Regions from separate parts of the Homo sapiens genome. Here region 1 is linked to region 2. The links come from fine-mapping of genetic effects on gene expression. A gene starts in region 2. The other region holds a variant in brackets. All regions are shown on one strand. Distances are from middle to middle.

Region 1 (4,387 bases), 75 kb before region 2:
ACAGGCTGTCCCACTGTCCAGCCCATCCTGCTGGACAGGATGGAGGAAGTCAGGGAACAGGTAGGGTGGACATCTGGGGTGCAGGGAGGGGCAGGTGCATGCTGGGAGGTCAGACCCTGCGAGGGCTGTGGGGGCATCAGGCGGAGTGGGCTCCAGGTGCACCCTCAATGCACTGGGCAGGTCTCAGGCCAGGCTCCCTGGACCCCGGCTGGGTGATGTGGTCACTCCCTGGGGGACTGCTGTCAGGCCCTGGCCACCCACCCTGGGCAGCACCGTCCTATCTCAGGACTGGAATTTCTGCAGTCTGAGACAGGACAGTACTGTCCAGGCCTGACAGACTGGGAGGACCCGTTAAGTCCTCCATCCCTAGACCAGCCTCCCACACAGCAAGGACAGTCTCTTAGCTCTACCTTCAGGGCACTGACTGATCCTGCTCACTCTGAGGCAACCAAGGCAGAGCTGAGGACCTGTGCCAAGGCTGGGAGCCAGTCCCCTCCCTAAATGGGCCTGAGGGAAGCACCATCCCTGTCCCAGTCCACTGCAAGCTTCAGCCCAGGAGACACATAGGGAAGGGAGGACGGAGCCCCTCTGCTTCCTGACACTGCAAAAGCGGGACCCAGGAGAAGAGGGAGTACAGGGCTGGCAGGGGACACTCCAGGCCAATGGAGAGCTCCAGCTGCACCATGGGGCTGCCCCTCCTGGGCTGGAGGCTGTGCCCTCTGCAGGATCTGAGAAAGTCCAGTCCTGAGATGGGACAGTGCTGCCCATGGTGGGTGCCCGGTGCCTGACAGCAGTCCCCCAGGGAGTGACCACATCACCCAGCCGGGGTCCAGGGAGCCTGGCCTGAGACCTGCCCAGTGCATTGAGGGTGCACCTGGAGCCCACTGCGCCTGATGCCCCCACAGCCCTCACAGGGTCTGACCTCCCAGCATGCACCTGCCTCTCCCTGCACCCTGCTGCCCACCCTGCCTGTTCCCTGGCTTCCTCCATCCTGTGCAGCCCATAGACTGTGACCATCTATCTGGCCACTGTGGCCCTTCCTTTCCCTTTGTCCTGTTGGAATCTCTGAGCAAGATCTCCCAGGTCCATCGAAACACCTGCTTTGTCCAGTTTTGACTGGGTCTTTGGGCACTACTGGGCCATCCCAACTGTCCACAGGGCCCTCAATAACGTGCATTGCACCTGACATCTCCCAGCAGTGCTCAGCAGCCCCTGCTGACCAGGTCCAGGTCCCTGCTGGCCATATCCCACACATCAGGTCCTCCCTGACCACACTCTCACTGATTAGAACCCCATGACCAGGCCCCACTAACCAGGCCCTTGCTGCTAGGCCAACAGTGTCCAGGACCCCACTGACCAGGACCTTACTGACCAGGGCCTCACTGACCAGGTTCTTACTGACCAGGGCCTCACTGACCAGGTTCCACTGATCATGACCCCATTGCCTGGCACCATAGATGAGGCCCCACTGACCAGGCCTCCAGGGAACAGGCTGCCACTGACCAGGCCCCTATTAACCAGGCCATAGGTGACAAGATGCCCCTGACTGTGACCCTAGTGAGTAGGCCCCACTGAATAGGCACCCACTGCTCAGATCCCTGCTGACCAGGTCACCCCACAGACCACTGCTACAAGAGCCACCACTGAATGCGCTCTCTCTGAACAGGCCGCCACTGATTAGGTTCCACTGACCAGGCTGCGCTGACCAGGGCCCCACTGACAAGGGCCTCACTGATGAGGACATGGCCAGCAGGCCCTGCTGACTGGGTCCCATGTGACCAGGCCTCCAATGAATAGCACCCCTTGAGCTGGTCACCAGTGACCCGGCCCATGCTGACAAGGCCACCACTAAGCCCCAGCTGACCAGGTCTCCATTGACAAAGTCCTGCAGCCTAGTTTTACACTGACCAGACACCAAACAAGTGGCTGCCACTAGGTCCCCACTCACCAAGACCCCACTACTAGATCCCCCTAATGAGACCCTCTCTAAG[C/T]AGACCCCTGCTGACCACACCCCCCAATAAATAGGCCTCACTGACCAAGTCCCAGCTGACTAGGTCCACTGATGAGGCCCACACTGATCAGGGCCCTCATAACCATACCAGAAGGACAAGCGACAATGAGATATTTCATATGGCAGGAGTAGGAGCAAGACAGAGAGAGAAAGGAGGTGCCACATCCTGTTATACAACCAGATCTCATGAGAACTCACTATCAGGAGATCAGCATCAAGAAGATTAACCACTGGTGAAGGAAACACCACCCACACCACCACCCACTGTTTGCAGGCAGAAGCCTCCTGCAGAGGCAGAGCCTCTTGGGAAACTTCTACCATGGCAGTGCAGAAGGGAAACATGGGCTTGGAGCCCCGACACAGGAGGTCACCATCCTCCAGACCCCAGATTCATAAGCCCACCAACAGTTCACATCCTCAGTATGGAAAAGCTACAGGCACTCCACACCAGCCTAGCCCATGAGAGCAGACATGGGGGCTGAAGCCTGCAAAGCTGCAGGTGCACTGCCCTAGCAGAGGTTTCCCATGAGCCTCTGCCTCTGAAGCAGACTACTCCCCCTTCCTACTACCCACCACCCTCCCACCACCCTACTGCCAACCTACTTCCCACCCTACCCACCCCTTTTCCTTCCAACCCCAAACCCCTCCTGCCATGATTACATCACCTCCCACCAGGCCCCACCTCCAACATTAAGGAGTACATTCCACAGGAGTTTTGGTAAAGAAACACAGCCAAACCATATTATTCTGACCCTGGTACCCCAGAATCTCATGTCCTTCTCACAGAGCAAAATACATTCATGCCTTGTCAAAAGTTTCCAAAAGTCTTAACTCATTCCAGCATTAACTCAAATGTAAAAAGTTCAACATCTCATCTGAGACAAGTCTACAGTCCCTTGCACCTATGAGTCCCTGAATTTAAAAGGATGTTCTTTTCTTTCAGGGTACAATGATGGTACAGGCATTGGGTAAGCTTTCTCAATTCAAAGGGAAGAAATTTCCCAGGAAAAAACCACAAATAGAACCACACACCCAATGCAAGTCCAAAACCCAGGAGGCCAGTATCCATTCAATCTCACAGCTCCAAAATCACGAAGAGAACTCACTAGCATAAGCACAGCAATAAGGAGATGGTGTTTAATCATTTGTGAAGGATCCACCTCCCACCACCACTTTTCACCCCTCACCCCCACCATAATCCCCTCATTCTCCCTACCCCCCACCTTCCAACCCACACTCTCCACCATGATTAAATCACCCTCCACCAGGCCCCACCTTTAACTTTATTATTCTGTCCCTGGCTCCCAAATCTCATGTCCTTCTCACATTGCAAAATACAATGATGCCTTCCCTACAGTCCCCCCAAATCTTGTATCATTCCAGCATTTATACAAATGTCCAAAGCTTAAAGTCTCATCTGACACAAGGCTATACAGTCCCTTAGGCACATAAGCCTCTGAACTATAAAGCAAGTTAACTGCTGCCAAGCTACAATGCTTGTGCAGGCAATGGGTAAGCATTCTCAACTGAAAGGAAAAATTTTGCCAGAAAGAGCAAAACACATAGAGGACTTACAGGCCCCATGAAACTCCAAACCCAGAAGGCCAGTCATTCAATCCTACAGTTCCAAAATCACCCTTTTTGAAACGTTGTCCCACATCCAGGGCACAGGGACATGAGGGCTGGGCTCTGAAGGCCTTGGGCAGCCCTGCACCTGTGGCTTTGCAGGGTTTATGCCCCACAGCTGCCCCCATGGACTGGGCGGGTGTTGAGTGCCTACAGCTTTTCCTGACTGATGGTACAAGCTGTTGGTGGGTCTATGAATCTGGGGTCTGCATGACGGTGGCCTCCAGTGTGGGGGCTCCAACCCCATATTTTCCTTCTGCACTGCCCTAGTAGAAGTTTCTTATGAGGCTCTGCATTTTTGGGATGCTTTTGTCTGGTCACCCAGGCATTTCCATACATCTTCCAAAGTCTACAAAAAGGCTCCCAAGCCTCTAGTCTCATGATCCATCCACCTAGTGGCTTAACACTATGAGGAAGTTACCAAGGCTTCTAGCTTGCACCCTCTGAAGCAGTGACCCAAGCTGCATCTGTGCATTTTCAGCCATGGCTGGAGCTGGAGCTGCAGGGACGCAGGCAGCAGTGCCCTGAGGCTGCACATAGAGCGGGGTCACAGGACTGGCCCAGGAAACCATGCTTCTCTCCTAGGGCCCAGGGCCTGTGATAGCAAGGGCTGCTGCAAAGGTCTCCGAAATGCCGTCAAGGGCTTTTCCCTATTGTCTTGGCTATTAGCACTGGGCTCCTTTTCATGCAAGTTTCTGAAGCCTTCCTGAATTTTCCCCCTGAAAATCAGCTTTTCTTTTTGACCACTTG
Region 2 (4,387 bases):
TTTTCGAGTGTGTTATCTTTTGTTAATTTTTTTCTGATACACAGGGGATTTTAATTTTTAGTTTGCTAAATCAACTTTCAGAATGCCTGCTTGCGAGGTCATTCTTACGAAGGCCTTTGTTAACATAAAATGTACCTGTATAAATAAGTCTTTGCGTTTTCTTCTGGTACTTTTTCTCATTTTGCATGTGTAAAAATTTCAGTCTGAATTCCATCAGGAACCCATTTTTGCGACATAAAGTTTCATTAGTTTTCTTCACACAGCAGGCATTTTATTAATAACTCATCTTTTCCTACTCATCTGAAACGTTACCATTATCCATCCCTATGTATATATCTTACATATATTTCAGTGTTTTTGGATTTCCTGTTCTGTTCCATTTATTTATCTGTGTTTTCAGCTGTTAGTAAATAATTAATTGTGGGAATTAATAGCACATTTTGATATCTAGAGGAGCAAGTCTTTTCACTCCATTATAAACATTTTTAAATGTCATCACAATGGTAAGATAGATAGCAAGTGTCATGCAAAAATGATAAAACCTTGATATCTTCATTCAGTTTATGTAAAACTGATAAACATGGAAACAGTTCATATTTTGAGAAAACTGAGTCTTCCCATTCAAGGAACCCACCTCGCGCTTCCCAGTGTCCCTCTAAGAAGCTCCAGTAAAGAACCTGTCTACCTAGGTGGATTCGGATGTAAAACCGACACAGGGTTTTATCTGAGAACTCTTCGCCTACTGAAAAAGGCTCATGGTATTTTTGACAGGGGAATGAGTTCTCATTAGGCACCTCCCTATCATGTATATGGCCCCATGTTTTAAACGTGGATATGCCTAACTTTGTGAGTTAAATCACTCAAATTTTCCACCAAGCGCGACGGACGGGGAATTGCCAGCGACGGAAAGCAGCTGAGGCTCCATTTGGCTCCGCTGCTCCGAGGGTGCCCGGCGCCCTCCAAGGTCCCCGCCCCAGGGGCTGCCGGGCTGCAGGGAAGCCGGGCCTGCGGCCCCCTCCCACCGCGGGCTGAGTCCCCGAGCTACCTGTCTTTTCTGTCGCGGGCGTCCAAGTCCCGGAACCTGCGCGTCAGGCAGCGCTCCACCTCCGCGGCGTCGCCCTTGATGGCAGCCCTGTGGATCTTCCGCAGTTCCCAGTCCCGAATGTCGTAACCCGGACCCGCATACTCTTGGTCCATGGAGCTCAGGAGCGCCTGGCCCAGGCGTCTCCCGAAGCTGAAGAGCTTCCTCATGGTGGCGACTTCTCAGACGCCCACCACCCGCTCCTGAGCCGCGGCGGCTCCTCGTGGCCTTTCCACCCCCACTCCGCCCCAAATCCGCGATCTCCCCCGCAACCCGCGATCCCCCCCGCAACCCGCGATCCACCCCCAAATCCAAGATCCACCCCCAAACCCGCAATGTAGCTCAGAATCCGCGATCCAGCCCGGTCCACCACAGCCTTCAGCAGCGACACTCGCAGACTCCGACCTCTCAGACCGAGTGAGCCCAGCTAAGCCGTTAGGCGCGCGCCTGAACCTCAGCGCTCCGAACTCTCAGACCGAGTGAGTCCCCGCGATGCCAGTTAGGCGCGCGCCTACAACTCAGCGCCAGCCGGGACTCCGGAAGCCGCTCCCAAGCCCTCGTGGCCGGCAGGGGGCACCTGCAGCACGGGCGCACGCGTCGCTGGCTTGCGGGTTCTCCTGGGCTCCCGCGGGACGTCCCGGAATCCCAGGAGTGCATCCCTTCCCGCCTGAGGGCCTGCCTGGCCCTGACTCCCGACCCGCTCCTCCTCCGAAGAGAGATCGGGGCCGCTGACAGGGGCCCTCCGCAGCCACCGGGGATGGGACTGGGGGGTCGGTTCCTGTCCCGGTGCAGCCGCCGCCGGGTAGACCGCCTGGCTTGGCCGCAGCCAGGGCGACATGTAGCCCCGGTTCTGCCAGGCTGGGAGCGCCAGCCATCTTGGGAGTTGCCAGGCAGCTGTCGCCAGCAGGTAGAGGGCGCCTGCAGCTTGGGCGCCCAGGTGGTGGAGCACGGCCTAGGCGGCCTCTGGATCGCGAGTGCACCTGGCCTGAGAGCCCGCCAGGCCCTGCCCCTGCTCGGCTCCTCGTCTGCTGAAGCTCGGGACCTCTAGCCAGTGGCCCTCTGCAGCCACGGGGAATGGGGCTGAGAGCCGGTTCCCGCTGCAGGGCAGACCACCTAGCTCAGCCGCAGCCACAGGGACATCTGGCCCCGGTTCTGAGATGTGGGGAGTGCTGGCGGGCTCGGGGGTTGCCTGGAGGCTGCTGCCTGCACACAGAAGGCGGATGCAGCTTGGGTGCCCAGGCGGGCTGGAGGTGCATGGCCTGGTCGGCCTCGGGATCGCCAGCGCGCCCAGCCTGAGGGCCCCCAGGCCGTGCCTCCCGCCCATTCCTCCACCGGAGGGGGATCGGGGTCGCTGGCATGGGCACTTGGCAGTCACTCCGGATGGGGTTGAGCAGGGGTTCTCAGTTTTCGCCCCTGTGCAGCCGCCGCCGGGCAGAATGCCTGGCTTGGCCGCAGCCACTGCTACACCTAGCGGGTCGGGCGGGCCGGGGGGTGAAAGCGCTGGGAGGCGGGTGCCTTCTCGCCCTGTGGCGCCTCTGGGCCCCACGGCTTGTCGGCCTCCGGCGCGCAGGGCTCCCCAGCATCCTGGGCGCCGGCCCGCTGCCTGCACAAAGTCAACTCAGACAGGATGAACTTCGGTTGCCTTGTCTGGCTGGGCTGCCAGGCGGGGCAGCTGACCTGCTGATGGGGTGACTTTCTTCATCTTCTTGCCCACAGGACAGCGGGCTGGGAAGCCAGGGGCCGCCGGGACCTGGGGCTGGAAACCACATCTGCCCACAGCCGCAGCCTCCTGCACCTGTCATCCTGGCGGCGCCCTGACGTCGGAGAAGCAGCAGGCGCGGAGCTCCTGCAGCGGGCACCGCTGCAGCAACCCGACCCGGCGCAGGCGGCAGTGGAAGGCGGCCTGCTAGCACGGCTCCCGCGGCCCCAGGACCAGGGGTGCGGCCAGCACCGCCCTCACTCCCCGCGTCTCGTGGATATTGCCCTCCCTGGAGGCGGCTGGACCTAAGCGAGGCTCGCAGCGATCGGCCCCGCGAAGACTCGCATGCAGGGCTCAGGATCCCGCATTCTGGCGCCGCGGCACCGCACCTTTCAGCAGCCCTGCTCCTCTTCTTGTTGGTAAACTTTTGTCACTCTGCCATGAAAAGCATCCAGGCGTCCTTGATTTCGACATTGCGTGCACGCTCAGCCGAGCTCATCAGACGGGCGGTTGTCCCCAGAGCCCGCGGGTAGCTTGTTCCCGGGCGGCGGCTCCTGCTGGATGCAGCTCCTTGTGGGCCTACCAGGCTTGGTGGAGCCACAGCAGACCTGTGGAGAGGAAGAGTAAGGCGGGCTCTGCAGGGCAGTGGGCCGGGACCATGAGAGAGGCGGGTCAGTCTGGGCTCCAAGCTCAGCCTCTCGGATTCCCCGGGACCCACGGCTTATAATGCGCTTAAATCCCACGCCTCGCCCGAGAGACAGCACGTCACCGTCACCGTCACCGCCTAGCGCCCCTGACCCGCTCCCACTCCGCTGCAGCGGAGGGTGTGTGAGGGAGAGGGACGCAGGGAGGGAAAAGCGTTGGGAGGGCAAACATCTTTTCATAAGCTTTTCCCCTTCTATATGCCATCTCTGATGGGAGCCTCTTTAGATCTTTCGTCCATTTACTAATTGGGTTGTTCGATTTCTTATTGTTGAGTTGTAAGTGGTTTTTAATGGTCTGGATGCCAGACAGGTGTTTTGCAAATATTTTCTCCGTCTGTGGCTTGTTTCTCCATTCTCTTATTTCCTTTCCCAGAGCAAAAGTTTTTAATTGTAACGACTTCATACCAATATCTTCTTTCATGGTAGAAATTTGTCTTTTATGTACTTTACTGTTGTATCTACAAAGTAATTGCCAAACCCAAAGTTACCTAAATATCCCTTTTGTTATTTTACAGAAGTTTTACAGCTTTTGGATTTAAATTTAGGTCTAAAAATTGAATTCATAAAAGTAGAGAGTATAATGATGCTTACCAGAGGCTGTGTTGCTGGGGAGAAAAATGGGAAGTTGTTCACAGATGCAAAGATTCAGTTAAACCGGAGAAATGCGTTTTGAAATCTATTGCACAGCAGGATGACTATAGTCAATAATAATGTACTGTATATTTAAATAACAAAAAGTAAATTTCAAATATCTAACCACAAAAAATAAAATTGAGGTGATGGGTATTTTTTATTTTATTTATTTATTTGTTTATTTATTTATTTTTTTGAGACAGAGTCTCGCTCTTTCGCCCAGGCCGGACTGCAGTGGCAGGGTCTCGGCTCACTGCAAGCTCCGCCTCC

Evidence for each region. PIP is the estimated chance that this variant, and not a neighbour inherited with it, causes the effect. A credible set is the group of variants that fine-mapping cannot tell apart.
Region 1: its variant is the best candidate, but not a certain one, in a credible set for the expression of FAM201A in whole blood (INTERVAL, PIP 0.73).

What each region holds. Positions count from the first base shown.
Region 1 is chr9:38,544,442-38,548,828 of GRCh38, forward strand. FAM95C (family with sequence similarity 95 member C) reads right to left here and starts at 931. Exons shown (of 3, transcript NR_047651.1): 1 at 875-931; 2 at 1-197. The variant C/T (reference allele first, on the strand shown) is at 1,992.
Region 2 is chr9:38,619,035-38,623,421 of GRCh38, forward strand. FAM201A (family with sequence similarity 201 member A) reads left to right here and starts at 2,054. Exons shown (of 2, transcript NR_027294.1): 1 at 2,054-2,331; 2 at 2,798-4,250. It overlaps ANKRD18A (ankyrin repeat domain 18A), which reads right to left and starts at 1,562. Exons shown (of 16, transcript NM_147195.4): 1 at 1,046-1,562. The coding sequence starts at 1,251. RefSeq lists enhancers at 2,208-2,327, 2,980-3,189.